4 linked regions of the Homo sapiens genome follow. The protein of the gene in region 2 purifies or fractionates together with the protein of the main gene of each other region. This does not show direct contact. Each region holds a gene or a part of one and is shown on either strand. Other genes may lie near its edges.

Region 1 (8,464 bases), on a different chromosome or scaffold from region 2:
CCCAGCACTTTGGGAGGCCGATGCAAGTGGATCACCTGAGGTCAGGAGTGCGAGACCAGCCTGACCAACATGGCAAAACCCCTTCTCTACAAAGAACACAGAAATTACAGGTGGCAGACACCTGTAATCAATCCCAGCTACTCGGGAGGCTGAGGCAGAAAAATTACTTGAACTGGGAGGGGAAGGTTGCAGTGAGCCGAGATCGTGCCATTGTACTCCAGCCTGGGTGACAGCGCGAGACTGTCTCAAAAAAATAAATAAAATAAAATAAAATGAAAATGAAAAGATGAAAATATAAAGCATGAGGTACTCATAAGAAAAAAAAATCACTTTTTAATTTTAAAAAGAAAAATACTTTAGAAGATGAAAAGAGGCCAGGTGCAGTGGCTCACACCTGCAGTCCCAGCTACTCGGGAGGCTGAGATGGAAGGTCATGACTGCTGTGAGCCGTAATTGTGCCCCTGCACTCCTGCCTGGGCAAGAGAGCGAGACTGTGTCTCAAAAAAAAAAAAAAAAAAAAAAGGAAAAAGAAAAAAAAAAGAAAAGAAAAATAAGAACAGGATTCAGGACTGCTGCAGCCTGGGCTGACCATGAGCCCGTCTGGAGCTGGGCACGTTACGGTGTGGCAGGCGTGTGTCACTGTGGATAAAGCGCACCAACACCCCCGGACAGGCAGGAAAAGCAGTTTGGTGAGGGGGGTCATCCGCAGGGCAGAGTCTGGAGGCTGCTCCTGGGGGAGCCCGGGAAGGGCTGACGGGGCCCCTGACCTGAGTTCCTGGAACAATCCCAACCAGGGGATCTTGGGCCCAACGGGGAGGAGAGTCCAGGCCAGAAGGGGCCAGTGGGGTCTGCGCCCTGCAGCAGCCGACTCGCCCAGTACGGAGCCCCACACTCCCAGTTCTCCCCACAGCCCCAGTGGCGAGCATCCACCCCCTACCCCCCGGGGTTCCTCACCAAAACACAAGCGCCTGTCAGTCACCAGGCTTCTAAACAGCCGGGACTCAGCCAGCCACCTGCAAAGTCGCTGAGCCATCTGCCAGCCACGCTTGGTGGCCATTCCAATCAAGGCCACAGGCTGTGCCCCTAGGGACAGCCTCAGAGCCCAGGGTTGTCCTCAGACACCCATGAGGCATAGCAGGGACCTGGGCCACCCTGGCCACTGACTGTGCTGGCCGCAGGGATGGGAGTCTGCACCGCGTCGGATGTGGGGGCTCCTGTCTAGCCCGGCGTCAGGGTCCAGGGGCAGGAGCCCCTGGCCCAATACCTACTGCCCAGGGTCAACAGCACCTGCCCTGCCAGGCACACGGGGGTCCCAGGCAGGGTGTATTCACCACGCCCAGTGCATGACCCGCTCCAGGCCCAGCCTCCTCCCCGCTGGTTTACCCCCAAAACCCTGGGACAGGCTCCTCCCCGCCCCACGAGTCCCACACCGGCTGTCAGCCACAGAGGGCCGGGTGTGAGCAGGGGTGCTGAGGAAACCCCAGGCCCCGGCTCCAGGAGCAAGGTTCACCCCCGAGGCGGGAGGGGCAGGCAGGGCAGCAGCCGCCAGCCCGTGCGGGCAGACCCAGCCTTTGATCAGGAGCGGCCCTCGTGCCAGCTGCCGGGAGGCCGAGTTGTGGGGGGCGTCTGCTGGGACTGGCGTCCCAGCCCAGCACAGGGCTGCAGGGCAGCCTCCCAGCCAGTGGAGGCACTTCAAAGACAGGGCCAGGGGGCGCCGGGCAGCCCCAGCCTCTCCCAGCGCCCGGTTCTGATCGCCAGTAAAACTACCTTCTAATAATTAATGCCTGACATCAAAGGCAGGAACCGCCCGGGTCTGTGAACCACCCCGGGTCTCGGCCGAGGACCTGCCTGTATTTTATCCTGTCTCTTCCTTCTGACTCTTTATTTAAGTCCAAAAACCACACACAGGCAAAACATTAATGGGAAACTTGGAAACTCTTTTTGCTTACTAAAGTGTACCTTTGAAGTTCCCCAAAAAAGTTCTGTTTTGTTCCCTTCTCCCCTCCCCCCATCACTGAAAGGGACCCAGCAGCGGCATGTGGCCCCGGGCCCTCTGCGTGTGCGGCTGGCGGCGATGGGAGGCGCGGGGCAGGCAGGACGCCCTCCATCAATCAGCTGCCCAAGTCCCAGATCAAAGGCCCTCAGCACGCCATGCAGGCCAGGCACACGCTCCCTCCCCTGGACCCCTCCTGCCAGCCAAGACCCCACCCCAACAGCGCCTCCCGACGGGCGAGCACGGGCGGGCACTACTCTGGGCTGCGAGCCCCATGCTCCACGCCCCACGCTCTGCAGACAAGACCCGCCCTGGTCACGGAGGGAAGGGGCTGAGGCCCACGCCTCTAGAATGGGGGAACATGACAGCCACTGTGTCTCTCACACTGAGGGGTCCCCACAAGAGCAGGCCTAGAGGGGGTCAGCCCCTGCTCACCCGGAGCACACGGGTCGAGGGGCACGAGCGCTTCATGGGGACTCAGGTGTCACAGTGCAGAGTTTGGCAGAGTTCCCAGAGGGAGGATGGGGTGCCAACACCATCATAGTCCTAGAATGGACCCAACACCCTCACTCCCCACTCCCTTGTCCACTCAACAGGAACAGTCCCAGGACAGCCAGGGGGACAGAAAACAGAGGGGCTGGACCCTGACGCCGGGCTAGATGGGAGCCCCCACATCCAACACGGTGCAGACGCCCGGCCTCTGCCCTCCCAGGTGTGTGGCCGGGAGGCAAGAGGGAGGCATGAGGTTGCTTCACTCAGAAGTGGCCAGAGGAGGAGGAAGCAAACTCCTGACCTCACCTGAGTTCCGGGACACGTAGCACGAGTGCCCAGGGGACAGCCGAGGCCGGGGCCATGTGCACAGAGCCCTCCTGGCCACTTCTTGTTTTCTTTTTTTTTTTTTTTTTTGAGATGGAGTTTCACTCTGTCACCCGGGCTGGAGTGCAGTGGCACGATCTCGGCTCACTGCAACCTCCGCCTCCCGGGTTCAAGAGATTCTCCTGCCTCAGTCTCCCGAGTAGCTGGGATTACAGGCACCTGCCACCACACCCAGCTAATTTTTGTATTTTTGGTAGAGACAGGGTTTTGCCATGTTGTCCAGGCTGGTCTCAAACTCCTGACCTCAGGTGATCTGCCCACCTCGGTCTCCCAAACTGCTGGGATTACAGGTGTGAGCCACCATGCCACAGGCCCAGACACAAATATTTTAAATGTCCACAGGAGATGGAGGCATGGGGGCCTTCCAGGCCCACTACGTCAGCAGGAGCTCAAGAAGCTCTGACCTGGCCCCTGGGCTGTGGCTGGCAGCTGGCAGCCTGGCCCTCAGGGGACACAGGGGCTGGGAAACAGCCTCCTCCCATCCCTGTCACCGAAAGCCGCATGACAGTCCCCCAGTCTGCCTCTTTTGGCACAAAACCCATAAATGCCACGAACACCTTAGTTCTGCAGGTGAGGAAGCTGAGGAAGTCAGGTTTCAGCAGCCCAGGTGCAGGGCTCTGATGCGGGGTCAGGACAGGGACAAAGGAAAAGTCAGCCACAGGGCCAGGGACCCCACAGACACGAGGTCCCCACGGTTGGGGGGAGGCGTGAGGGAGAGGGTCAGGCCACAGCCACACACAGGCATGCTCGGAGGTCAGCACCTGGCCGCCTGCCTGCATGCACTCCCCGCCAAGGGCCCAGTGCCCCAGTGGTGGGTGTAGTCTGCAGTGAGCAGTGGCCATAACCTTCGGAGAACTTCCAGAACCCAGAAAAGAGGGGCCACTGCCCAGCTCCCTTGTGAGCCAGGTGAAATTCGATTCCCAAACTGGATGAAGACAGAGCAAGGAAAAAAAGTCTGTCTCACTTATGAACACACATGCACAAGCCAATAAAATAAAGCATACGGTCATCTCCATTGATGCTGAAAACACTGAAACGGTTCAACACCCACTTAAGATTTTTTTAAATGTCAGAAAGTTAGGAATAGTAACTTTCTCTGCTTGATAAAGGCTTTTTATAGCACACATCATCCTTGGCAGAGAAATGACTAGTAATTCCTGTTACGATCAAGACAAGGAAGGATGTCTACTAAGATCGCCACGATCCAAAAGCACCAGAGGCCCATTCGCTGCAACACAGGAAGAAAAACGATGAGAGGACAAAGGGAAAGGTCTGCAGAGGCCCCGACAGAAACCAAGACGCCACTAGAACTAGCAAGGAGTCAGCCAGTCAAAGATGTAACAGGAAGCATGATACTATCCACAATATTATAAAAAGTAACTTTCAGGCCTGGTGAGGTGGCTCACAATTGTAATCCCAGCATTTTGGGTGGCTGAGATAAGAAGATCGCTTGAGCCCAGGAATTCGAGACCAGCCTGGGCAACAGAGAGAGACCTCGTCTTTATGAAAAATAAAAATAAAAATAAATTAGGCTGGGCGCGGTGGCTCAAGCCTGTAATCCCAGCACTTTGGGAGGCTGAGGCGGGCGGATCACCTGAGGTCAGGAGTTCGAGACCAGCCTGGCCAACATGGTGAAACCCCGTCTCTACTAAAAATACAAAAATTAGCTGGGCGTGGTGGCACACGCCTGTAGTCCCAGCTACTTGGGAGGCTGAGGCAGGAGAATCGCTTGAACCCGGGAGGTGGAGGTTACAGTGAGCCGAAAGTGCGCCACCACACTCCAGCCTGGGCGACAGAAGCAAAACTCCATCTCAAAAAAAAAAAAAAAGTGGGTGCCTCAGTAAAGGTGGTTTAAAACCAGAAAAAAGAGCTGGGCGCGGTGGCTCACGCCTGTAATCCCAGCACTTTGGGAGGCCGAGGTGGGTGGATCACAAGGTCAAGAGATTGAGACCATCCTGGACAACATGGTAAAACCCTGTCTCTACTAAAAATACAAAAAAATTAGCTGGGCTTGGTGGTGCGCGCTTGTAGTCCCAGCTACTCGGGAGGCTGAGGCAGGAGTAATCACTTGAACTTGGGTGGCAGAGGCTGCAGTGAGCCGAGATCGCGCCACTGTACGCCCACCTAGGGACACAGTGAGACTCTGTCTCAAAAAAAAAAAAAAAAAAACCCAGAAAAAAAAAAATCATTTGCCTGAGAAGCTAAGAACAAGCCCAGTGACCCTGCTCAGGTAGGAGGTGGGGCTTGATTCCAGACCAGATTGAAGACTGGCTGATGCGTTCACCAGCTCCCCCTTCCCTGGCCATAACCCGGAAGTTACCACCCCTTTTCTAGAGATTTCTGAATGCCCCACCCCTTAACGTGCATGTAGTTGAGTGGATGTAAATGTGACCACGGCCATGCCCTGAGCTGCTGCCCTCCATGCACCACCCCAGGGCGGCCCTGCTCTGTGCCACACATCACGGAGCCAACACGGAGCTGACACAGTTGCCGCCTTGTCATGGAGCCAACACGGCCTCATCCCGGAGCCCACACGGCCTCATCCCGGAGCGGACACGGCCTCATCCCGGAGCAGACACAGCCACCGTCTCAGTAAAGCTACTTTCTCTACCACCTGCTTACCCCTAAATTCCTTCCTGGGCGAAGTCAGAAGGCTCCTGTCCAGAGCCCCGCGTTTGGGTTCCTCTGCGCGTTTGGGTTCCTCTGCCCGCATCACGGCCACGCCACCAGGCTGACCAGCTAAAGCCACGCAGGGCTACACATCAGGAGAAAGGACACCCCCAAGTCCCAAGGCCTAGAGCCCCTTTTACCCGCTCCCGCTCCTGCTCCTGCTGGGGATCCCGCTCCCGCTCCTGCTCCTGCTCCTGCTGGGGATCCTGGCCCGACTTGGACTTCTTTGGCTTGGAGGGGCCTCCAGGGCTGGAGAGGGACTTCGGCAACTTAGCTGAAGATGATGTCAGAGGCCTCGTGGGCCCAGGAGGGCCCCCCAGTCTCTGTCCCCCACCCGAGAAAGGAACAAAGGGGGCAGCTGCGGGTGCCCTTGTGCTCTGCTTCTCCTGAGTGTGCTCGCAGCAGGGCCCTGAGGTGTCCGCGTCCTCCGGACGGCTCAAGTCGCCGCGGCTGAGCTCCCCAGATTCCAAGGGAAGTGGAGCGCTGGCGGCTGCCTGGCCAGCCGACGCTGACGAGCCCAGGCTTCCTGGGGTCTTGCCCACGGGGTCGTAGCACTTCATGACAAACCTGAGTGGGGCCAGAGGACAAGGGAAGCACCTTGTGGTGCCTACCCCCGGCTCACCCTCTCCCGGCCCAGGCTCACCCTCTCCCGCCCCCGGCTCACCCTCTCCCGCCCCCGGTTCACCCTCTCCTGCCCCATGCGCCCTCCCAAGATCCACCGCCCCTCTGGGGGACACAGAGATGAGGTCGGGGCAGCCCAGCCCCCACGCCCACAGGCAGGCAGAGGCCACCAGGCGCTCTCCATGATGAGGGCCTGGGTACACCTACTCCCCACTTGCCACGTGTCCTTTCTCCTTTCCTTTGAGACCACTTTTTTTTTTAGCTAAATAGACTCCTCGGCCCCAGCAGCACTGCCCTTACCTGATGGTGGCGCTGCCCCCGGTCAGGCCCAGCGACTGCAGCGTCGTGCCCCGCAGGGCAGCTTCACCCGTCACCTGCAGGAGGAGCAGCCAGGACAGGTGCGCCTTGCACCGGGACCCCAGAGCCCAGGGAAGCCCTCCGGGCACCGGCACCACCAGGACCACAGGCCACGTGCCCTCTCTGGCCTCCATCCTACCCACCCCCCACATCTGGCCCCTGCCGGTCCACACCCTCCACAAGGCCCAGCTTGAGTCTGGTCTGCAGCCGGGGCAGGACCTGCTGCCCATGCCTGACCGTGTCTCCCCCAGCCTGGTCTCCGCAGCTGGGACCCAAGCTCACTGAGGCCTGGGCTGGCAGAGCTGGGCTGCAAGGAGGAAGCCCTGGTGCCAGGACCCACTGCCCGGAGCGAGAGAGGCAGGAACGTGCTGTCACCCACGGGGGTGGCCATTCCTGGTGCTCAGCTCGGGGTGGGCAGGGATCGGGCCTGGCTGGCCACGTCCCATACGCTAACTCTGACCTGTGAGGAAGGGGTGGAGAAGCTGCCTCTAGCGAGGGCACAGTCAATGGCCCAGCACAAAAGCCAAAGGGTGTAAGGGTCCCTGAGGGCCACAGCCTCAGGACAGTGCTGGGCCTGGGTCCTGAGCCCCGTGGCTCATCCCCTCAAGGGAGGACGTAGACCTGAACCTCCCCGTCACAGCCCCAGCCAGGGAGCTTCCAAATGGGGATAAATGCGGGGAATGTCCTGGCCCCCCAGGGCCCCTCCGGGCCAGTGCCCCCCCACCCCAGCAAAGGGCACTCAGCCAGCGTGGAAACAAAAGGCCCCTGTGAGGCCAGGGACGAGCGCTAGGAGGGTCCCGCCACGGCGGGCTTTGCTTGCGCCACGCCACACTCGGTTTTGAAAATGATCAAAACACCGAGCAAAGCAAATATTTATTAAATGAAACCACTTTTGTGACTCTTGGGCTTTGAGAGAAGCTGAAAAAACAAACAGGGCGCCGAGGGAGGTTTCGGGGCAGCCCGGGCTCCGAGGGCCGGCCACTCCCTCTTTTTCCATGAAACACGTCGTGCTTTCAAGAGCCCGAGTCTCCCGCCACTGCCCTGGAGACGGCTGCGGGACAGCAGATTTTCCAGTTGGAAAGTGGGCTGAAAGTGAGCGGGGACTGGGTGAGCAAGAGCAGGCCGCCTACCTCATCCCTCGTGTACACGCAGACTGGGGTGGCCCCGCCGGGGTGCTGCAGGCACTCCCTGGGAGGAGAGGAAAGAAACCATCAGGTACCCCAGGGCAGCTCAACCAGTGCCACGGAGGCCCTGGGGCAGGAGACTCGGAAAGCAAAGGTGTGGGGCCCTCACCCAGCACCCACCCAGGACAGCGTCCCAGGCCCAGGCCCAGGCCACAGACCTCAGCCCCACTGCGCCCCACAACCACCAAAAGGAGGCACCTGACAGCCGGGGGCGCTCCCAAGGACCCTGGCCTGTGGTGCGTGGCCTGGGGGCTCCCCCCGAGACCTCCAGTCTCGGGGCCGCTGGCAGGACGTGGAGCTGCCGGCAGGGCCCAGGGACCGCACAGGAGGGGCGAGCAGCACTGGCTCCGGAATGCGGCTCACGGACACCTGTACTCAGGAGCCTGAGAGTCAGGGTACCGACGTCTGGGCTTTCATCTTAAGCCGCCCACTAAGAGGAGGTGCCCCTGTCTCCACCGCCTGATGTCCTCCTTCAAAGCCGACGCCTGATGTCACCGAAGCATGGAGGGAGGGGCGCTGCACTCCGCTCACGCCCGCTTGCCTGTGGCCGGGGAGGCCGTGCTTATAAGTCCATGTCGGACTCTGCCACCAGTGTCTTTCTGAGCCTCGCCCCGCAGGAGGCACAGCTGGACCCGTGCATGGGTGGGCAGGTATATGCAGCACGCCTCCCACACATGCCTGATGTGCATGGCAGCCCGGGAGACGGGCACATGCCGTCACATCCAGCCCCAGAGCATGTGAACTGCTGGTGGCACCTGCTGCA
Region 2 (8,464 bases):
GTCTTCTAGTAAAACTTGTAAAGAAAAAGATTCCAGTTCAGTATTTGCAGCAAGAAGCTTGAATCCTGTTCTTTTTATTGCATTGTTACATTGACTCATTCTCCATTTTGCTTTGGTTTTGTTTTGACTTGACTTTGGGGGTAAAGTCTTTCACCAGCACACAAGAGTTTGATTGTACAAATATATCTCCGGTATTAACATCTCTGCCCGTTGCTTAAGATCAGTTGCTTTTATACTCAGAATGGAAATACCTGATCTTGGCTAGCTTTGTTTGTTATATTGATTTCATTTAGATTTCCCTCCACAAGGTCAGCAAACTATCATGTTCTTATGTAACCTTAGGCCAAGGCCAGAGTTATCATAGTCCCTAGGTTGCTAAGGCTTATCATGTGTTTGGTAAAAGGTGATTGCAGGTTCTCAGATGAGGTTACTTTACATGGGATGGAATCAGGCAGAGAGGCTGGGATGATGGAGAAAGCTTGAGGTGCAGGTTTTAAAAAAAGGTGTGGAAATTAAAGTTCCAAAGAGGTGGTTGCTGAGGAAGTGAGAGAGCCCAGGGCCAGTAATGAGAGAGCCCAGTCAGTAATGGGTGAGTCAGGTTATTTGGAAAGTTGGTATGACAAATACATGGTATTTGTCTACTTCTAGGTTGCTGGTAGGTATTAAATATGCACAATATTCCAGAGCTCACTGAGGGTTTTAAAATTATAAGCATAGGATTTTATATTTTGGGGTGAAAGAGTTATCTGGCACATGGTATTGGGTTTTTTTAAAAAAGACAAATTTCACAGTCTTAATAGCTTTAAAAAAAAAAAAAACTAAAAGGTGCTTCATGTCTAGTGTGTGGCCTTCCTGAAACTTATGGTCATCTCTCCCACTGAAATCAAGGTCTTTTGAAATGTGGCTAAATGGGGATGAGAAAACATGTGTAGGACTTTCTTGGTGTGTGTGCATTCTTTAAAGAGCCCAGTTGCTTCGGGGAAACAGTCAAGAAAATGGTCAAGATTGTTTTTAGAGGTAATTTTATTGGGGATTTTAAAACTAATAATATCTTGAGTTATTTTTAGTTCAGGGGGATGTGGAAAGGTTTGCAATTGTGAAGTGTTTTATTTTAGCTTAGTATCCATAAGGGAAACTTAGACTGTAGACATAACTACAAAGCCAGTGCAGTTTTTATTTTCTGTATGTTGTTGGGGGAATCAAGTTTTACATATAGCAAGCACATGGCCTCCCTGATGTCAGGATGCCTTTGTCAGGATCTGTATTTGCCCTTAATTTTATTGAAATAGCTTTTCCTTCTTCCTCTTGAAAAGTTCCAAAATATAGTTTATTGTATCTTTCATCATTAAAAATTTGTTCTTTTTTCACTACAGGCAGTTCACACAAGGCAAAAACTATTGAACAGTTGGTTTTAGTGGGTCATATAACTTTGCTGTATATCAAACTAATTTTGACAAGTTTTCATCCTAAGCCTCAAATCATGTAATTAATAATTTGTCTGTTTATTTGTGACCTAATTGTAATTCTTTTATTAATAAAAGCTAATGGGAAAAGGATCCCTGATTAAGCTGATGACTAGACCTACAATTAATTTTCCTGCAGTATATGAAGTACCAGAGTATTAAAAGATATTTAATATTTTATTGATAAATCTTTTAAAGGGAATATGTTTTAGGATGTCATCATTTTGATGTGAATCATGTAAATGTTGATAATATGCTGTTTATTATACATTTAGTGTTTCAAGAGATTCACTTAATTGCCTTTTTGCCCACTTACATTATGTAGTCTATTTGCAACTGTTTTTTAAAAAAATGACATTAAAAGAATACTTTATGTAGAGAAACATTAGTGGATGTTAATTGTCTCCCCACCTATATTTATGGGTGTTAGCGCAACTGCTTTGCTAGTTGCAAAGCTGTATTATCAGAGTAAAAGTGTATTTGTAAACTGTATGGGAACTAAAAATTAGGAATAAAACCATTTTCTTATATGAAAACAAAAAAATTACAACTGAGATGTATCCATCTTGAGTCAAAGCTTTTAACATTGTATTATAGTTTTGTCACTAAATTTTTATTAAAAGACAAATTGACTTTCCACTGCCTTCTACACAGGGGCAACTTATCTTCTTGGTCTTCAAGGCTGTATCCGCAACTGGCTACATAATTTGTGAGACCCAGTGCAAAGTGAAAATCGAGTCCCCTTGTTCAAAACCAATTAAGAATTTCAAAACAGTAACAGCAAAGCATTACTCCAAGCACAGGGCCCTTCTAAGCATGGGGCCTTGTGCAATAGCACAGGTCACATGCCTATGAAAGCCTTCCTGGCTGCACCCCCATCTATCCAACCTTATTTGCTACTAAGCTACTAAAGTTCTGCTGGTTCTTTTTCTGGTTCCTCTGGTCATTTTGATTATGTGACTCTCTGTTCCTGGAATTTTGTCCCTTGTCTTCTGTGCTTATCTAACTCCTAATATCTTAAATCCTTTTAAGGCCCAGCTAAGTACCAACTCTGTGCTAGGCATCTTATTCACTTTATCTCATTTAATTCTCAAAGCAATACTACTATACAATGACTTGTGGAGGACATATCCAAGTTCTGATTGTGATATTTAACTTTTCATGGATGAATATGTCAAAACAGGCATCAGACTATATCCTGAGGGTCTTTCTGTAGATTACGTAACTCCTCTTGTAAATTAAAAACACAGACCATCTTATGTCCAGAGTTTCAGATAATGAAACTGTCTTGGCTTAAAATGACAATGAGACAATAACTGTTTTGATTTCAAATACCGCCCAAGGAGGTGGACCATGAAAATAAGCACTGTTTTCTGTACCAAACAGACCTGTAGAAATACAACGAAACTGGGAAAATTTCGATATTGAATATGAAATCAAAGGAAGTATACACTTAGCATTAGAAGATATCATACGTAGAAAAAAAGATTGCGAACAATCTGCTATACATTGTATTATAAACAGATTAAACACAGTTTACGTCTCAACCTATATATTTTAAGGAAACTCAGTTCTTTTGATAGATAAATTATTCTAGAAATCAAATGTGAGGCACAAAATCCTTACAAACTGGATTACTGAATTATACCTATTAATCACAGCATTGTTTCAGACAGCATAAAAGAAAACCCTTCACTGAAATATCTTAATGATTATATTTGAATAGCAAGGAAAATATTAATACAGTAATCTTATGATAAGAACTCAAATATTAAGTCATTCAACTTATGTTCAAACTGGGGAAACAGTGGCCAAATAGTGAGTAAAATGCAAGTACAGAGATACATATTAAGTACTTTCAAGACTTGGGAGAATATACAAATTAAAGAAGCAGCTAAAAATACAGTATTTTATATGTATAAAGGTAAGAATTAAATGAAAGAATAGGATGTTCAACTAGTGTCAAGATACCAAACTGCTGATTACAAAGGACACACAGTATCTTACAATGGAGTGCTGTGGTGGTCAGCACCTTAACCAAATGAACATATCACTAATGGTGGAAAATCCTGAAATTATGACTCCTGTTGTCATGTAATAAATAGCAGACAATATCACTTATCTAGCATACCCGACAAAAATTCTAATAAAAATCTAATCATGAGGAAACAGTGATCTACAATGTTAGACATTTTATAAGACATCTGGCCTAGACTCTCTAAAAAAGTCAACATAATAAATTTTAGATTATGTAGCTGAGCTAAAAACAACAATAAAAAGGTGGGAAGAGTTCTGTGTATTCAGAAATTCAAAACAGGAATAATTAAATGCAATGCAATGTCCTCAGTTGAATCCTAAATCCAAAGAAAAAGCTATAAGAGATATGTGACTACTAACTATATATTAAATGGCATCACAGAATTACTATTAATTTTTTTTTTTTTTTTTTTTTTTTTGGAGACAGAGTCCTTCTCCATCATTCAGGCTGGAGTGCAGTCGCGCCATCTCGGCTCTCTGCAACTTCTGCCTCCCAAGATCAGGCGATTCTTGTGCCTCAGCCTCCCAAGTAGCTGGAATTATAGGCTCGTGCCACCATGCCCAGCTAATTTCTGTATTTTTAGGAGAGATGGGGTTTTGCCATGTTGGCCAGGCTGGTCTTGAACTCCTGACCTCAAGTGATCTGCCCACCTTGGCCCACCTAAAGTGCTGGGATTACAGGCATAAGCCACCACTCCCCGCCTGAATTACTATTAATTTTGTAAGGTGTTATCAATTTTGCAAGTGTGTGCTTCTTCTCGGGAGACTCATGCTGAAGTATCTAGAGGTGAAGTGTCATGATGGCTACAATTTCCTTTCAAATAGTTGAGTAAAAAAGAGAGAGAGAATACATGCGTGCACAAGTTCAATGTAACATTGTACCAACTTGGTGAATATAGGTGAAGTAAACACAGTATTTACTCTACTAGTCTTGCTTTTTGATGAACTGAAAACTTATAAAATAGACTTTCTGAGAATAAGATATAATGGGAAAACTGACGTTTCTTCCCCAGGGATGGTATTTACAGTACTAAAAAGATGTTAATGAAAATATTCCTGGCAACAAGAAAACTCACAGCAATAAAAGACACCTGGTTCTCATCTCTTAAGTCTTCACAGTTGGTTGTTTTTATACTTCAGGGATTTTAATAACAACAAATACTATTTAGGAGGTCACACATTAGAGGAATCATCACCCAAAGGAAGAAGAGACAGACTTCAAAAATCATAGATTCTTAAATGGAGGACAAAAGACCTGCAGAGGCTCCATGGAGTGGCTTCAAGAAACACACATATCCTTAAAAACGAATGACAAACTTGCACATGAAAGTTGTTTTGAGAGGAGAATTCTATAGCTTTCATCAGACCCTTAATGAGTCCTATGACTCAAAAAATATTAAAGAACCATTGTGCCCAAGAAAAATAGTATTCAGGATATAATTTCATATGATATCTACCAAAATATTAGGTATTTTAAGGTAATTTTTCCGTAAGTTTCTTTTGGCTTTCTGATTGTAAAAGTTTTAATAGTACCTAAATGATATTAATCATTTCTATTTTTTATCCAAATCTGCCTCGATCTTGGAATAATAATTTTTAAAAATTATTGAAGAAACCTTGAAGAAGGCCATTTAAAATAATTTGAAGTTAGTAAATTTTTAGAAAGGATTATAATTTCTTTTTACAACAAAACAAAATAAAACTTACCGTTGAGGTGGTGTCCGTGGGCTCTTGAAGACTGTGGCTTTAGGTCTATTAGACTTGGAAGATTTGCACTTCACTTCATCTTCATACAATTCTGCCAAGGCCAACTACATAATAACAGGCTTGTTACAAAGTATAACACTAGGAATAACCTCTTCCATACAACTAGAAGTTATGTATAGAACACTAACTTAAAATTGAGTGGTAAAGACTTTTCATGAAAAAAGCTGCTGCTTCAGATGATTCCTTTCTGAAATAAACTTACTGCATCTCATTATATAGAACTAACCAAAATGCCACATCTATTAGAATAACTTTAAGTTATAATAATTACTTGATTATTTTCAATTAACTACTGAACAGTGTCAAAATCTGTTTTAGGTAACAAACCATTTTCAAATTTAAACCTAAAATTCTTGTGCAATTCTTTTAAGAATTCCTGAAGATGTTCACACTAACGTCAGCTTCTTCCATCAGATCTCATAAAATAGTTTCATTCAGCTATTCAAGTTTTCAAACTCCAAGCATATAAAACAATTTCAGAAGTATTCTATTTAAAAGTCTACCAAACTTATAAATTTCATCGTGTTTAGGAAAATGAGTTTCTGAACAAACAAGACCATAAATTATATATGGTTTATATACCATTTAGAAAGTAATATTACCAAATTATACATTCTAGATATTGGCTGGATAGTTTATTTCAAAATGAAATAAAATTATATTTGTTCTTAAAATGGAATTTTAAAAAGTAATCCAATATTTCAGTATTGTATAGAATTTTTTCTGACTTTTGACATCTTTGGACAACAACTCAACAACTTTCTTTAATGCTCCTGTGGCTATTCAATTATAATTGGCATGACCATAATCTCCGGTTTTTTTTTTTGTTTTTTTCAAAAAAAACCCAAAAAACAAACAAACAAAAAAACCCAAAATCATAACAAAACAGATTAAAATGCTCCTTTTAGACACACAAATGATATGAAAACTACCTCCAAGAAGAACAGGGCATTGGGGCAATGTTAATTCTTTGAAAATTCTATTAGTCAACTTTTAAAATATACACAAATAAAACAAAATGAAAGACTTCTAATTTTTTTACCCCTACCCTCCCACATTCAGTAACATTCATATTTGTACAATGGCAACTTTGCTAGAAATCTGAATTATAAAAGTGTTTGGTAATCTAAAAGGACTGAATTCAAATCGTAACTTAGGCACTTCCTGTGTGATCTTGGGCAAATTATTTAATTTCTCTGAGCCTTAGTTACCACATCTTCAAATGCCTATAAAAAATCACCGTAGTCATTTGAAGGATTAAATAATGTATGGAAAGCACAAAGCATGTGTTCCATCACTAGAAGATATTATTCTTAAATGTTTAGTAATGATTGTATCAGTGTTTCATTTTCCCCAAGATTTTTTTTTCTTCCTACAGTGTTATATCTCCTTATGGTCCTTTACTACTCCATCCCCTCCAAAAACACAAAACAAAAAACAAACAAATGATAGAGGAGAGAGAGACAGACATGCACATACACAGTCTGATGACTAGGGTCTAAAGTTTTCAGAAATTTTACCTCCCTGAAATTTCTTTAAAGTAGTATTATTTTATGGATTTCCTTCTAAGCTCATTATGTCAGCTTTATGAATTACTTTTATGATATTCCTATTCTCATCAATGAAAATGTCATCTGTATTTCAAAGGCCCATTTCAGCTCTCCTTCACAAAACCTTTTCTAATCTTCTTAATATCTTTTTTTCTAAATACTCATAGCACGTAATACCCCCAATGACATTCATATTAAGCATTATGTTGTCATTACTTGTGTACTTTTGCTGTTTTATTTCCCCAACTAGATTTTAAGTTTCTCAAATTGTTTCTAATATTGTACCTAAAAGGCAACAAATTGACGTTGAATTATATAAAGAACATAATAGAAAATGAATCAGAAATAGATATAGATAGATGTATTTTAAATTGGGGTTATATTTGTTAAACACTTTTTGCTTTAACAAGATTTGAATAAATGCTTCCAATCAAATAACAATTTTCTTTGGTGACATAAATTAAAAAAGCAAAAATGCCACTAGCCCCATGGAATGTGGAACATACATTAAGAAAAGAGGAATATGAGGAAAATGATATTAAAGAGTCTACCTGGCTGAAAGATCCTAGTTATTAACGGTACATCATTAAAAACTTAGAAGAAAATGAGTAATATTTAGAGGGAGTTGATGCCATATGGCATCATATGGCATGAGTTCATTAGTAAATACTACAAAGAAATTTAATTTATATTATTTAACATAGATGACATTACATCAAAAGAGGAAATGATAATTTAAATTGATAAATATTAATTGAAGTACTGGTCAAAACTAACACAACAAAAAAATCTCAAAACGTAATTAAGAAAATGTTTCAATAATATGCAGAGGATAAAGTATGTAAGTAAAGTATTGATAATCTTTCCTCTAGAATTTGAAATGTGAAGAACTTGAAACCTGAAAGCAAAGGAATCGGGTGAGAAAATAAAGTATATAGCAAAATATTAAAAGTATTGGAATTCTCAGCCTTAGAGTAACCAATTCTAGACGCTGTAATAAATGATTATTATACAGACACCTGGGAACTTCTAGGAAATGCATATGCTTAAACTCTACTCTAGAACCAATGAATCACACTCTGGGGTAGGGCCCAGCAATCTCTGACAAGCCTTCCAGGTCACAGATGCATACTAGAGAATCAACGATACAGAATAATGACATTCAATATGATTAGGGTACTTGTGGCAACACAGTTATCAGAACAGCTATCAGACATTTTAATTCTTCTCATTTATAGTACCCACTATTGAGTCCATCCTAACAAATCCAATCCTAACCCTAACAATACTGAAGTTATCCCTGTTCCCACTCCCTCCCCGTCCAACCTATGTAGAAACAGATAATATGTGGAGGAAAACTGGGACAGAGTATACAACTAAATACCTTAATGAACATGTGTGTGGCGGGCTGAGGGACACCAGAAGAGAAAGCAATTCAGAAATACTATTGAACACTGGTGAGGTTTTGGGCTTAGTTTTGCCACTAACAATCCCACCCCTAACTTTCCCCATGACCATCTCCTTATTTGAGGGGGATGAAGGGAGCTATGAAAATCTACTCTGATATGCAAAAAAACATTTCCGAGTCTGCAGTTTGTAACCTGGGGGCTCCCAGGGCTGGGAGGCCTTTTGGGAAGCAACTATGCA
Region 3 (8,464 bases), on a different chromosome or scaffold from region 2:
ACGCCTGTAATCCCAGCACTTTGGAAGGCTGAGGCAGGAGGACAGCTTAAACCCACGAGTTTAAGGCCAGCTTGGGCAACATAGTGAGAACCTGTTTCTACAAAAAAATACAAAAATTAGCCAGGTGTGGTAGCACATGCCTGTGGTCCCAGCTACTTGGGAGGCTGAGGCAGGATAATTTCTTGAGCCAAGGAGTTGAGGATGCAGTGAGTAATGAACAAACCACTGCACTCCAGCCTGGGTGACAAAGACCCTGTCTCAAAATCAAAAAGAAACCCACACAGTGCATCAGATCAGGATAACTAGAATATTCATCATCTTCAACACTTATCCATTTTTGTGTATTGGTAACACTCAATATCCTCCTTCTAGTTATCTGAGACTGTAACATTCTTGCCAAGCTCAGGGGCGCGAAGTGCAGGTCAGTAATCCCAGCTACTAAGGGAGGCTGAAATGGGAGATCTTTTGAGCCCAGGAGTTTGAGACCAGCATGGGCAACACTGTGAGACCCTGCCTCAAATAACAATAATAGTAATAATAAAATTGTAAAAAGAAAACAAACAAAAAGAAACTAACATTCTTCAGATAACAAACATATAGCGATGGAAAGCCAATTAGTAGTTGCCAGGGGTCAGCGACACAGTCAGGGAGCAAATACAAAGGAGTAGGGCACATAGGGGAGCAAAGGGATCCTGATGGTATGATACCATCCAAAGTTAATGTAACAAGAAATTGAGATTTAAGAATTCTACTTATGTGTTAAACACAATAAAATTAAAAATAGTAGCATAAGTTATGTTAATGTACAACATTTACAATTTTTTTTTTTTTTTGAGAGAGAGAGAGTCTCACTTTGTCACCCAGGCTGGAGTGAAGTGGCGCGATCTCGGCTCACTGCAACCTCCACCTCCTGGTTCAAATGATTCTCATGCCTCAGCCTCCCGAGTAGCTGGGATTACAGGTGTGTACCACCACACCTGGCTAATTTTTGTATTTTTAGTAGAAGTGGGGTTTCACCAGGTTGCCCAGGCTGGTCTCGAACTCCTGGCCTCAAGTGATGCACCCACCTCGGCCTCCCAATGTGCTGGGATTACAGGCGTGAGTCACAATGACTGGCCTTAAAAGTAAGGAATAATCTTAAATTACTGTAAAAGGTTCCTCCCCAGAGCCCCATCCTCCCAAAGAATCAAAGCTAAGCATCACCTGTAAGATATGATCTCCTTTAGATGATTGGTTAAGAGTTTTCCTCCCACATTTATCCTGCAAGGGGAGAACTCAAATTTAATTATCGCACATATCATTCTGTTTAATCTTTAGAAACAACATGAAAATTAAATACAACTCACCGAATAATTGCTTCTTTTTTCTTTTTACTTCTACAATAAGGAACTATATGTGTAAAGGAATATCCACTATCAACAATGATACAGCATAATTCGGAAGGATTATCTCGGAAATACCTATGTGCACTGAGAGCCCCAGCTATTTAAAAAAAGATAAAAAAGTGAACAAAAATATAACACTAATTTAAAGCAATTAAAAAGGTAGGAAACAAAGACAAGCACCAAGACAAAAATGTTCCCTTTATTACAAGAAAAATGTTAATTTATAATACTATTCATAACTGTCAAAAGATCTTTATTGTGTTTATACTTTAAAACACCACACTTACATGGTAAACATAATAAAAATTTGGTATCCGTTTTTAAAGGTAAATATTCACTCCATAGTTTAAAAGAATTACTACAACAGCAGCTCATTTTTACTGATCATTTATTACATGCCAGACTCTATTCTAAAATCTGTATAATGAGTGTGTGTGTTAATACTCAAAACAATTCCATTTTACAGATAAGGAACCTGAAGCTCAGAGAAGTAAAGTAATGTGCTCAAAGCCACACAGTTAGGAAGTACCAGAGCCAGGATTCAAACCTAGGCAGTAGGTTGAGACCTCAGAACTATTGACATTGGGGGTTGGATAACTCCTTGTTGTAGAGGGCTTTCCTATGCGTTGTAGGATGTTTAACAGCATCTTGGCCTCTACCCATGAGATGCCAGTAGCACCTTCCCGGTGGTAATGATCATGGCACACTGCAACCTCCACCTCCCGGGCTCAAGTGATCCTCTTGCCTCAGCCTCTCCAGTAGCTGGGACTGTACACATGCACCACCATGCCTGGTTAATTTTTTAATTTTCTTTTGTAGAGATGGAGTCTCACTATGTTGACCATCTAGCCTAAAGTGGTCCTGCTGCCTTGGCCTCCCAAAGTTCTGGGATTACAGGCATGAGCCACTACACCTGGTTGAGATTGTGCCCTTAACCACTGCCCATACTGCTGCTTATATGGACTTAAATTCTGAAAGTTAAATATTTAAATACTTTCATTGTACCCAACCATGTCATGTAATCTAAGCCTGTAATACACTTGCTTCTAGATGATATTTACAGATTGTTCTCCCTCACACTGGCAGCCTGAGCTACTAACATTATTTCAAACAATAAGAATTCGGCCTGGAGCCGTGGCTTATGCCAATAATCCCAGCACTATGGGAGGCCAAGGCGGGAAGATGACTTCAGTCCAGGAGTTCGAGACCAGCCTAGGCAACAAAATGAGACCCTGTCTCTACAAAAAATAAATAAATCAGCCAGATGTGGCAGCACATACCTGTGGTCCCAGCTACTTGGGAGGCTGAGGCGGGAGGATCCCTTGAGCCCAGGAGGTGGAGGCTACAGTGAGCCATGTTTGTGCCACCACACTCTAGCCTGGGCAACAGAGCAAGACCCTGACTTAACAAAAACAAACAAACAAACAATAATAATTGCAAACACATAAATGACAGGAAAGATAACTACCTCAGAATCTTTCAGAAATAAGAAATATGTGGCCAGTAACTTCATTAGAAGAAATATTAGTAAAAAGATAAAATGAGAGATGTCTGACTATATAATCTCTAAGGGTCCATTTAGTTTTAAGATTCCAAAACTTGCGCAGTGGCTCATGCCTGTAATCCCAGCATTTTGGGAGGGCAAGGCGGGTGGATCACTTGAGATCAGGAGTTCAAGACCAGCCTGACCAACATGGTTAAACTCCATCTCTACTAAAAATACAAAATTAGCCAGGCATGGTGGCGAACGCCTGTAATCCCAGCTACTTGGGAGGCTGAGGCAGGAGAATCGCTTGAACCCAGGAGGTGGAGGGTGAGCAGAGATTGCTCCATCACATGCCAACCTGGGCAACAAGACCAGAACCCCATCTCGGAAAAAAAAAAAAGAAAAAGAAAAATCCAAGACTTATTTCCTTCAAATCTAAAAAATGCCACATAGTATTCTGGAACTTTAAGAGTTTCTTTACTTGGTTCATATCCATATTCAAGCTTCACAGAATTCAATTTCTTTTTTTTTTGGAGACAGGATCTCACTCTGTCACCCAGGCTGGCACGATCATAGCTCACTGCGGCTTCAACCTCCCAGGCTCAAACGATCCTTCTGCCTCAGCTTCCTAAGTAGCTGGGACTACAGGTGCGTGTCACCATGCCCAACTAATTTTTCTATTTTTTTGTAGAGACAGGGTTTCACCATGCTGCCCAGGCTGATCTCAAATCCTAAACTCAAGTGATCTACTCGCCTCAGCCTCCCAAACTGATGGGGTTACAGGTGTTAGCCACTGTGCTAGCCAAGAATGCCACTTAATATTTTGGGACTTTATGAGTATTACCCTATTCATATCCATAGTCATATAACTCAATTTCAGTGAAAACTTGAACTCACCATTTACTCTTAATACTGCTTGAAACTGGTATTCTTCAAATAGAATTTCATTCATTGATTCTTGAATTGAAGTGAAGTTAAAGTATGGTTCAGTGATAATAATATTAGTATCTAAAAAATCAACCTATAGGAGAAAACATTCCAAAATGTTTCATAATTTGTAATGATAATTAACACTTGTTTTACATGTACAAACAAATTTATTTAATCCTCACAATAATCGTGATGTCTTATTACTATCCCCATTTAATAGATGAGCAAACTGAGGCACAGAAAAGTTAAATAAGTGACCAAGTTCATAGAGCTATTTAATGACATAGGTAAGATTTGAATCCAGGGAGTCTAGTTACAGAATCCATGTACTCAACTATTATGCAATTTTACTTCTGTTAGAGGTAGCATTAATAAAATGTTACCAGCCTGGCACAGTGGCTCATACCTGTAATCCCAGCACTTTGGGAGGCTGACGTGGAAGGATTGCTTGAGGCTAGGAATATGAGACCAGCCTGGGAAACACAGCAAGACCCCACCTCTACTAAAAAAATAATAATAATAATAAATAAAAATTAACAGGGCATGGCGGTGCATGCCTGTAGTCCTGGCTACTTAGAAGGATAAGGTAGGCTAATTGCTTCAGCCTGGGAAATTGAGGCTGCAGTGAGCCATGATTGTGCAACAGAGCAAGACTCTGTCTCTAAAAAATGAAAGAAAATGTTACCATAAAATTGTTTAAAGACAATTATAGAAACATTAATGAATGATACAACAAATATTGGGGCTGTTATGTTTCTAAATGAAAGGAAAACAAGGTCAGGCACGATGGCTCAGCTTGTAATCCCAGGACTTTGGGAGGCTGAGGCAGGCAGATCACCTGAGGTCAGGAGTTCCAGACCAGCCTGGCCAACACGGTGAAACCCCATCTCTACTAAAAATACAAAAAAAAAAAAAAAAAGAGCCAGGTGTGGTGGCGCATGCCTGTAATCCCAGCTACTCAGGAGGCCAAGGCAGGAGAATCACTTGAACCCAGGAGGCAGAGGTTGCAGTGAGCAGAGATCATGCCACTGCACTGCAGCCTGGGCAACAGAGCAAGACTCCCCCTAAAAAAAAAAAAGAAAAAAAAAAGGACAGAACAAGACAAAGACAAAACAAGAGAAGATGGGGCTGGTGCGGTAGCTCACGCTTGGGCGGATTGCTTGAGCCCAGGAGTTTGAGATCAGCCTGGGCAACATGGTGAAACCCCATGTCTATTAAAAAGAAAAGAAAATCATAATAAAAAAAAACTTGCAGATGTTTTATTTATGTATTTATTTATTTATTGAGACATAGTCTTACCCAGGCTGGAATCCAGTAGTGCAATCTCGGCTTACTGCAACCTCCACCTTCCAGGTTCAAGCAATTGTCCTGCCTCAGCCTCCCAAGTAGCTAGGACTACAGGTGTGTGCCAACATGCCTGACTAATTTTTGTATTTTTAGTAGAGACGGGGTTTCACCAGTTGGCCAGGCTGGTCTCAAACTCCCAACCTCAAGTGATCCACCCGCCTCAGCCTCCCAAAGTGCTGGGATTACAGGCATGAGCCACTGCGCTTGGCCTGCAGATGTTTTAAATTAAAAAAAAAAAGGCAAAGGGCAAGATGCTTAAGATATTCAAGTTTATGTAATTCTCTCACACACATTCTTGAGAAGTATTAAAACTTGAACATTTTCTCCTTATACCTATAATCACATTACAGACATTAAAAACACAAAATCCTCTTGTAATATTCATGTATTTAGATATGTAAGCAAAAACGTTTGTGAAAATTAAGATGATATAGTGAATTGATCTAATAATAGAAATCTGAAGTAAAATTTTGAGTTTCATACAGACTATCTTTACTCAACCTCTACTTCAACATGGAAATTTTATTCACTTGCATTTATTATTTATTTTAAATGTGCGGAGAACATTATTCATAAGTTTATAAATCTTAAAATGTAAATTCTAATTTTTCATTACAATTAAACATGGAAATAGAATTTTAATACATACTCTAATTTGTTACCTGATACATTTCTTTTCCAAAAAGGTAATCCCAAACTTGTCTCTGAACATCCCAATTCACCAAGTAGCCCTAAAAAATGTTTTTATAAATTTAATTATCAAGAACATTTGAATAATTTTTAAAAATCAGATTATAAATATTTGAATAATTTTTAAAAATCAGATTCCAAATCACTGATTTCTATCTATGGTTACCATTTCCAGTGTAATGCTGTATGAATTTCTTTTTTTTAATTTAAAAAAAAATTTTTTTATTATACTTTAAATTCTGGGATACATGTGCAGAACGTGCAGGTTTACTACATAGGTATACTGCTGTATGAATTTCAAACCAATTATGTTAGTATGTTTTTCTCCTTTAAAAAGTTAAAAAACAAACTCACAAATAAGCAATAACTAAAATGTCAGAGGTTCAAAAGACACACCAATATATACAGTTGCCTCCCTATACTTATTTTCTTAAATTAATGTGTGCATACCACTTAGATTTAATGTAAGTAAAAATCAGTACTCACAATAAGTAACTAAATCATGGTCGTTTATTTTTACCCAAACAATTAAATTTTAATTTGGGTTTAATTAGGTTGTAGTTAAAATTTAAGTTACACACAGCCTTTTATATACAATTAAAATTATCTTTAAATTTAGGTCTACAATGCTAGAAATGAAACATAATTAATTGGATTACCTTTTGAAAAGGGAGGATGTAAAAGAGTCCAGAAGGGTCTTTTATTTCATCTATCTGGTTGGCAGTAAAAGTTTTAAGACGTGCTGTTTTTGACCGGAACTGACAATTAGGAATAACCCTAGAAACAAGGAAACAAATAATTATCCCCTAAATATTTAGTTCCTAAAAACATTTTTACTTCACCACCACTCTTGATGCCAAAAGATTAGCGTATCCTAAGATTGGTATATCCAGTGTTTCTCATTCTGTCTTAAAATAATACCAAAGGCTGGGAGTGGGGGCTCATGCCTATAATCCCAGCACTTTGGGAGCAGGATGATTGCTTGAGACCAGGAGTTCAAGACCAGCCTAGACAACATAGCCAGAACCTGTCTCTACAAAAATAAAAAATAAGGCTGGGCATGGTGGCTCACGCCTGTAATCCCAGCACTTTGGGAGGCAAAGGCGGATGGATCACTTGAGGTCAGGAGTTCGAGACCAGCCTGGCCAACAGGGTGAAACCCTACCTCTACTAAAAAAAAACACAAAAATTAGCCAGGCATGGTGGCACATGCCTGTAGTCCCAGCCACTAAGGAGGCTGAGGCATGAGAATCACTTGAACCTGAGAGATGGAGGTTGCAGTGGTCTGAGATTGCACCCCTGCACTCCAGCCTTGGTGATGGGGCAAAACTCAGTCTCAAAACTAATAATAAAATAAAACAGAAAGAGAAAAATACGAATCAGGCAGGCATGGTGATGAGCATCTATATTCCTATCTTCTAGAGGAAGGCTGAGGCAGGAGGATTGCTTAAACGCAGGAGTCTGCAGCTGCAATGAACTGTGATCCCACTACTGCATTCCAGCCTGGGTGGACAGAACAAGGCCCTGTCTCTATTTTAAAATAATAATAACACAAAAATGCCCCTCCCCCATTTTTTTTTAAAGTTCAGTATGTAACAAGTTCTATACTGGATCCTTTCTTTCTCTAATAATCCTCAAGAAATCCTTACAGGTAAGTATTGCTTCCGCCACTGCAGAGGCGAAAGCCAGTGCTTTGGTAAAGGTCCTAGTCTTTCTGGCTTTAACACAGAAAGTCTTAATACCATTTGGATTAAAGATTCACAAGTTAGGCCGGGCGCGGTGGCTCATGCCTGTAATCCCAGCACTTTGGGAGGCCGAGACAGGCAGATCACGAGGTCAGGAGATCGAGACCATCCTGGCTAACACGGTGAAACCCTGTCTCTACTAAAAATACAAAAAACTAGCCAGCCTGGTGGCGGGCGCCTGTAGTCCCAGCTACTTGGAAGGCTGAGGCAGGAGAATGGCGTGAACCCGGGAGGCAGAGCTTGCAGTGAGCCAAGATCACGCCACTGCATTCCAGCCTGGACGACAGAGCGAGACTCCGTCTCAAAAAAAAAAAAAAAAAAAAAAAGATTCACAAGTTAAAAATTATGGCCATAAAAATTAAGTTTCCAGCCGGGAGCAGTGGCTCACAGCATGTAATCCCAGCACTTTGGAAGGCGGAGGCGGGCGGATCATGAGGTCAGGAGTTTAAGACCAGCCTGGCCAACATGGTAAAACCCCATCTCTACTAAAAAATATAAAAATTAGCTGGGCATGGTGGTGCATGCCTGTAATCCCACCTACTGGGGAGGCTGAGGCAGGAGAATTGCTTGAACCCAGGAGGCGGAGGTTGCAGTGAGCAGAGATTGTGCCACTGCACTCCAGCCTGGGCGACAGAGCAAGACTCTGTCTCAAAAAAATAAAATAAATTAAGTTCCCATGAAGCCAAAGATCTTCAATCAGCAAGATGCTATAGGGCAGGGATCCCCAACCGCAGGGCTTGTGGTCCGGTACCTGTCTGTGGTCTGTTGGGAACCAAGCCTTCATAGCAAGAGGTGAGCACCAGGGTGGGGAAGGAGGGTGGGGCCGTAAGCATTAACACCTAAATTGCACTTCCTGTCAGATCAGCCATAGCATTAGATTC
Region 4 (5,134 bases), on a different chromosome or scaffold from region 2:
TGTGGTTGGAATGAGTCACTCTCAGTGCTGTGCAGTGTCCCGTTGAGTGACCGCCACAGTTCACGTGTGTGCTCCAACAGCTACCATCTCGCATTTTTAAAAGAAGTGGCCGATACTCCCACACGCACTTTTTAGCCACAATTTTCTTTAGTGTCAGGTGCAAACTGGAGAGCAAGCCTGAGCTGACCAGACACCACCTGCCACCCACTGCTCACCCGTCACAGATGGACTGTGCTGGCAGGGACCTGCCTCTGGTGTGGACTGTGGAAGGAGAGATGCTCTGGGCTTCCAGGGGAGCCGCCTGCTGCAGCAGCAGCCCAGGCCATGCTGCCTGGCACAGAGCTCAAGGTCCCAAGTGCCCCCGCTGGGTGCTGGGCTGCCTGCCCTGGCTTGCAGTCTTCTCCCAGGTCCGCACTCTTCTGCAGGGGCCATCACTGCCCTTGTCCTACCAAGGACAACTAGGTCTCAGTGAGTGGCAAATAGAAGCCAACTCCCTGCATAACTCAGGAAACTGACTCCGAGCATTCCCTCAACCAGGGACCACTCACCCTGGCCCAGACCTCCCCGAGAACTCCTGCCTCTTCCTGGGGCCTCTGGCCTACCCCATCCTGTCCCTTGGGGCTGCTGGCAGGGTTGGCGTGTATGGGTGTGGACAGGCAGACCCTCGCGGGCAGCCTGCTCCTGGGGCCCTGGCACTGCCTGGCTGGGGCTCACAGGCACGCTGCCCTCCTCCCTTCACTCCTGCCCCAAGGATGCCCTCTGTTCAGGCTGAACACCCCAACAGCAGCCTTTTGGGTGACCTCCGAGTGAGTTACCCAGAATAGCTTCTGCTGGCGAATAGCATCTTCTGCAAGGTGGCTCCTTCACTGCCTTTTGGAGCTCAGGCACTTCTGGGGCCCAGACACACGGGTGACATGTTACCACATCCAAACGGACCACTGGGAACTTTAAAACTGCCGTCTTCTGCTTTATTGACAGGTAAATTGTTCAAAAATGTTCTCACAATTCAATAATTAATTACAAAGACTGAGACTTACATTAAAAAAGTAAAAACCAGAACCCCCCAGGTGCCCATCCAGCAGAAGGCCCAGGAGGGCAGTGGGGTGGCAGGGCTAGGCGGTGCTGGGCCACTCAGTGCCGACTTGGGGAAGTGCACGTCCTGAACAGCCTTGCCAAGCAGCCGACCGGTGGGAGGACAGGGGAAGCCTGGCCCAAGCTGTGGACAAGCTGTGTCTGCCGCCACAGTTAATCACAAGCCTCTGACGACACAGGGCCACAGAGCTGGTCACTCAACATCTGGTACAAAGGGTGAGGTGAAATCCACGCGCAGGGGATTGCTGTGCCGTGGGCCGGGGCCAGTGTGCAGGAGTGTGTTGGGTGGGTCTACGTGATCATACGGGCTACTAATCACGGGGGCTCCATGCGGGGGCAGGACTGGTGGGGGGGGGGGCGGGCAGGGCGGGGCGGGGTGGGGTATCCCAGTGGCTGCTTCGTGGCGCCCTGGGGCTCTGACTTCCCTCAGCCCAGCAGGCCACAGGGCCTGCCTGCACCACGACACTCGCTGGTTTTATGGCAGGAGGCAGAAGCCGTGGAAGCGAATGGAAAACAGCACAGCTGACTTCACAGTAGTAGATACTGGTGACACTTCATGGCTGCGACCCAGAATGAACTTAATGCACACAGGGACGCAGGGTGTCACTGGTCCTGGGCCTTTGTCCATGACTAGGTGGTCAGCAGGACTTCTGCAGCTGACTGTGCAATGGCTAAATGAAAAAAAGGCCACAGACTAACCTCCACTTTCCTGTCTTCAAAATTCTAGTGACACTGGGAATGCTATAGGACCTCCTACTATTCTCTTAAGGTCCTAGGAAAGTTTCAGGAACTAGGGAAAAGACTGGGTACTGAGGCTGTGTCCCCAGATGTCTGCTTCCGAAGCAGCCGCGTCATGACGGGTTTCTGCTGAGGAAGTGGTGTTGGCAGGGCCCCATATGCCCTCTCGGGTTGTCAGGGGTGGGAGACAGGCTGTATGGGGGTCCTTCATGTGCAGATGGAACAGCATCGCCTCACAGCTGTGCAGACGAACAGATGTGGTCTACTGCCACGAACAATGCGGCATAAAACTGATCAATATTATAATAAAGATTTGTCTTCTTCATCTCCATATCTACAAAGTGATTCTACATTTCCTTGGACAACACTGGAGGGCCCGCTCAGTCTTGGCACTGACGCTGGAGGCCATCTCCAGCTCCCTGGCCCCTGTGGCGAGCTGGCGGCTTCAGGTGTCACAGGCCGGCTGCTCCAGGCCTTCGAGGGGGAGCTGGCTCCTGTGGGGGGAGTTGGGGCTCGGTGGGCCGCTGGGGTTGGAGCTATTCGATGGAGTTGAGTGTTTGGTGGAGTCCGAATCAGGCTGTGAACAGGAAGAGGGCAGGGTGAGCACCCGCTGCCCTAGCCTGGGGAGGCACGCGTGCCCAGCTGGATGCAAATGTTTGCTCAGGGACAACTGTCGCAACTGCTCTTCTCCCTTCATGTTATGAAAACACACACGCTCTACACCAGCGATTCGTGGGGCCCTTAGGCGTGCTGGTGAGAGTCACAAATTGATGTCTAATCCCACTCAAAAATAACATGGTAATTATCATTACAAAAGACAGCAACTCTGTAGTGAAGAAATCAGATGGGGCCGGACGCAGTGGCTCCTGCCTGTAATCCCAGCACTTTGGGAGGCCAAGGTGGGTGGATCACACTTGAGGTCAGGAGTTTGAGACCAGCCTGGCCAATGTGGTAACACCCCATCTCTACTGAAAACACAAAAATCAGGCCGGGCGTGGTGGCTTACGCCTGTAATCCCAGCACTTTGGGAGGCCAAGGCAGGCGGATCACAAAGTCAGGAGATTGGGACCATCCTGGCTAACATGGTGAAACCCCGTCTCTACTAAAAATACAAAAAATTAGCCGGGCGTGGCAGCATGCACCTGTAGTCCCAACTGCTGGGGAGGCTGAGGCAGGAGAATGGCGTGAACCCGGGAGGCGGAGCTTGCAGTGAGCCGAGACTGCACCACTGCACTCCAGCCTGGGCGACAGAGCGAGACTCCGTCACAAAACAAAACAAAACAAAAAAAACAAAAATCAGCCGGGCACAGTGGTGCGCACCTGCAACCAAGCAGTCAAAGTCACAAACGCGACACTCTTTCCTGAGAAAAGCACTAGGAATAGAGGGGAACCTCCTCAACAAAATAAAACAGCTAACCATACCCAATGGTGAGAGACAAAATTTTCCCCTAAGATCAGCCACGGGCCGGGTGCGGTGGCTCACACCTGTAATCCCAGCACTTTGGGAGGCCAAGGTGGGCAGATCATGAGGTCAGGAGATTGAGACCATCCTAACACAGTGAAACCCTGTCTCTGCTAAAAATACAAAAAAAAATTAGCCTGGCATGGTGGTGGGCACCTGTAGTCCCAGCTACTCGGGAGGCTGAGGCAGGAGAATGGCGTGAACCCAGGAGGCGGAGCTTGCAGTGAGCCGAGATCGCATCACTGCATTCCAGCCTGGGCTACATGTAGAGTGAGACTCTGTCTCAAAAAAAAAAAAAAAAGAAAAAAAGAAAAAAGATCAGCAACAAGGCAAGGATGCCTGCTTTCACCACTGCTATTCAACATGGGGCTAGAGGTTCTAGGCAGAGCGATCAGGGAAGAAACAGAAATGAAAAGGATTCCAAGTTAGGAAGGAAGTAAAGCTATCTCTCTTTGCAGATGACATGATTATACACGTAGAAAATCCCAAAGAAAAGAATCCACAAAAAACTAATAAGCTCAGCAAAGTTATAGGGTATAAGATCAACACACACAAGTCAGTTGTGTTTCTATACACCAGAAATGAACACACTGAAAAGGAAACTGAAAAAAAAAATTCAATTTACAACAGCATCCAAAAGAATAGCTAGGAATAGTTTAACCAGAGAAGGGAAAAATGTGTACACTATAAATTACAAAACATTGCTGAAAAAATAGCTTAAATAAATGGAACACATCTCATGTTCGTGGAGTAAAAATATTGTTAAGATGGCTGTACTAGGCCGGGTATAGTGCCTCACGCCTGTAATCCCAGCACTTTGGGAGGCCAAGGCGGGCAGATCACTTGAGGTCAGGAGTTTGAGACCAGTCTGGCCAACATGGTGAAACCCCGCCTCTACTAAAAATACAAAAATCAGCCAGGTATGGTGGCGGGCACCTGTAGTCCCAGCTACTTGGGAGTCTGAGGCATGAGAATCACTTGATCCCAGGAAACAAAGGTTGCAGTGAGCCAAGATCGTGCCACTGCACTCTGTCTCAAAAAAAAAAAAAAAAAAAAGACATTAATTATGAGGAATGTAAATAACGACAACCCATAGAACAAGAGAAGACATCTGCACATCACATCTCTCACAAGAGCCTGGTACTCAGAACATGCCAGGAGCTCCTACAACCCAGCCACAAAAGGACAAACCACCCATTTCAAAAATGGGTAAAGGCCTTGAGTAGACATTTCTCTAAAGAAGGTACGGAAATGGCCAACAAGCATATGAAAAGATGCTAAACATAAGTCTTTAGAGAATGCAAATCAAAACCACAATCAGGTACTACTTCATAGCCACCAGGACGACTATTAAAAAGAAGAAAAACAAGAACAAGTATTGGTGAGGATGTCGAGATATGAGAACCCTCACATTGCTGGTGGAATATAGAATGGTACAACTGCTGCAGAAAACAATTTGGTGGTTCCTCAAAAAGTTAAACATAGAATTACCACATAAATCCAGCAATCCCACTCACAGGCATAAACCCGAATGTGAAAACAGGCACTCAAACACATATGTGCACACACGTGTTCACAGCAGCACCACTCACAACAGCTGAAGGACAGAAACAGCCCAAATGTGCCTCAGGGGAAGAATGGGAAAACAAACCGTGGTCTAGCCATACAAGAGAATATTATTTAGCAATAGAAACGCCAGCACTGATGCATGCTACACAACGGGGGTGAGCCACAAAACAGTATGCCAGGTGAGAGCTAGGCACAAAAGGTCAAACACACTGCCATACGAGAGGCTGGGCATTCCATTTCCACGAAATGTCCAGACAGGGAAATCACAGGAAA

What was found.
Region 1: the proteins of UBXN2B (region 2) and ASPSCR1 purify together in Homo sapiens (affinity purification with mass spectrometry; 4 studies listed by BioGRID and IntAct, with this or other methods). This does not show direct contact.
Region 3: the proteins of UBXN2B (region 2) and ACTR6 purify together in Homo sapiens (affinity purification with mass spectrometry; 3 studies listed by BioGRID and IntAct, with this or other methods). This does not show direct contact.
Region 4: the proteins of UBXN2B (region 2) and CDC42BPB purify together in Homo sapiens (affinity purification with mass spectrometry; 4 studies listed by BioGRID and IntAct, with this or other methods). This does not show direct contact.

Annotation. Positions count from the first base shown.
Region 1 is NC_000017.11:81,994,062-82,002,525, reverse strand, and holds part of ASPSCR1 (tether containing UBX domain for GLUT4), read right to left. Parts: intron 7,706-8,464; coding exon 7,648-7,705; intron 6,535-7,647; coding exon 6,461-6,534; intron 6,107-6,460; coding exon 5,680-6,106; exon of another isoform or gene 5,492-5,679; intron 1-5,491. UniProt on the Homo sapiens protein: Tethering protein that sequesters GLUT4-containing vesicles in the cytoplasm in the absence of insulin. Modulates the amount of GLUT4 that is available at the cell surface. Enhances VCP methylation catalyzed by VCPKMT.
Region 2 is NC_000008.11:58,413,697-58,422,160, reverse strand, and holds part of UBXN2B (UBX domain-containing protein 2B), read right to left. Parts: intron 5,312-8,464; coding exon 5,208-5,311; intron 1-5,207. UniProt on the Homo sapiens protein: Adapter protein required for Golgi and endoplasmic reticulum biogenesis. Involved in Golgi and endoplasmic reticulum maintenance during interphase and in their reassembly at the end of mitosis.
Region 3 is NC_000012.12:100,203,091-100,211,554, reverse strand, and holds part of ACTR6 (actin-related protein 6), read right to left. Parts: intron 6,616-8,464; coding exon 6,498-6,615; intron 5,880-6,497; coding exon 5,811-5,879; exon of another isoform or gene 5,798-5,810; intron 3,893-5,797; coding exon 3,769-3,892; intron 1,483-3,768; coding exon 1,347-1,482; intron 1,261-1,346; coding exon 1,204-1,260; intron 1-1,203. UniProt on the Homo sapiens protein: Required for formation and/or maintenance of proper nucleolar structure and function. Plays a dual role in the regulation of ribosomal DNA (rDNA) transcription.
Region 4 is NC_000014.9:102,931,437-102,936,570, forward strand, and holds the end of CDC42BPB (serine/threonine-protein kinase MRCK beta), read right to left. Parts: intron 2,408-5,134; coding exon 2,276-2,407; 3' UTR 944-2,275; downstream 1-943. UniProt on the Homo sapiens protein: Serine/threonine-protein kinase which is an important downstream effector of CDC42 and plays a role in the regulation of cytoskeleton reorganization and cell migration. Regulates actin cytoskeletal reorganization via phosphorylation of PPP1R12C and MYL9/MLC2.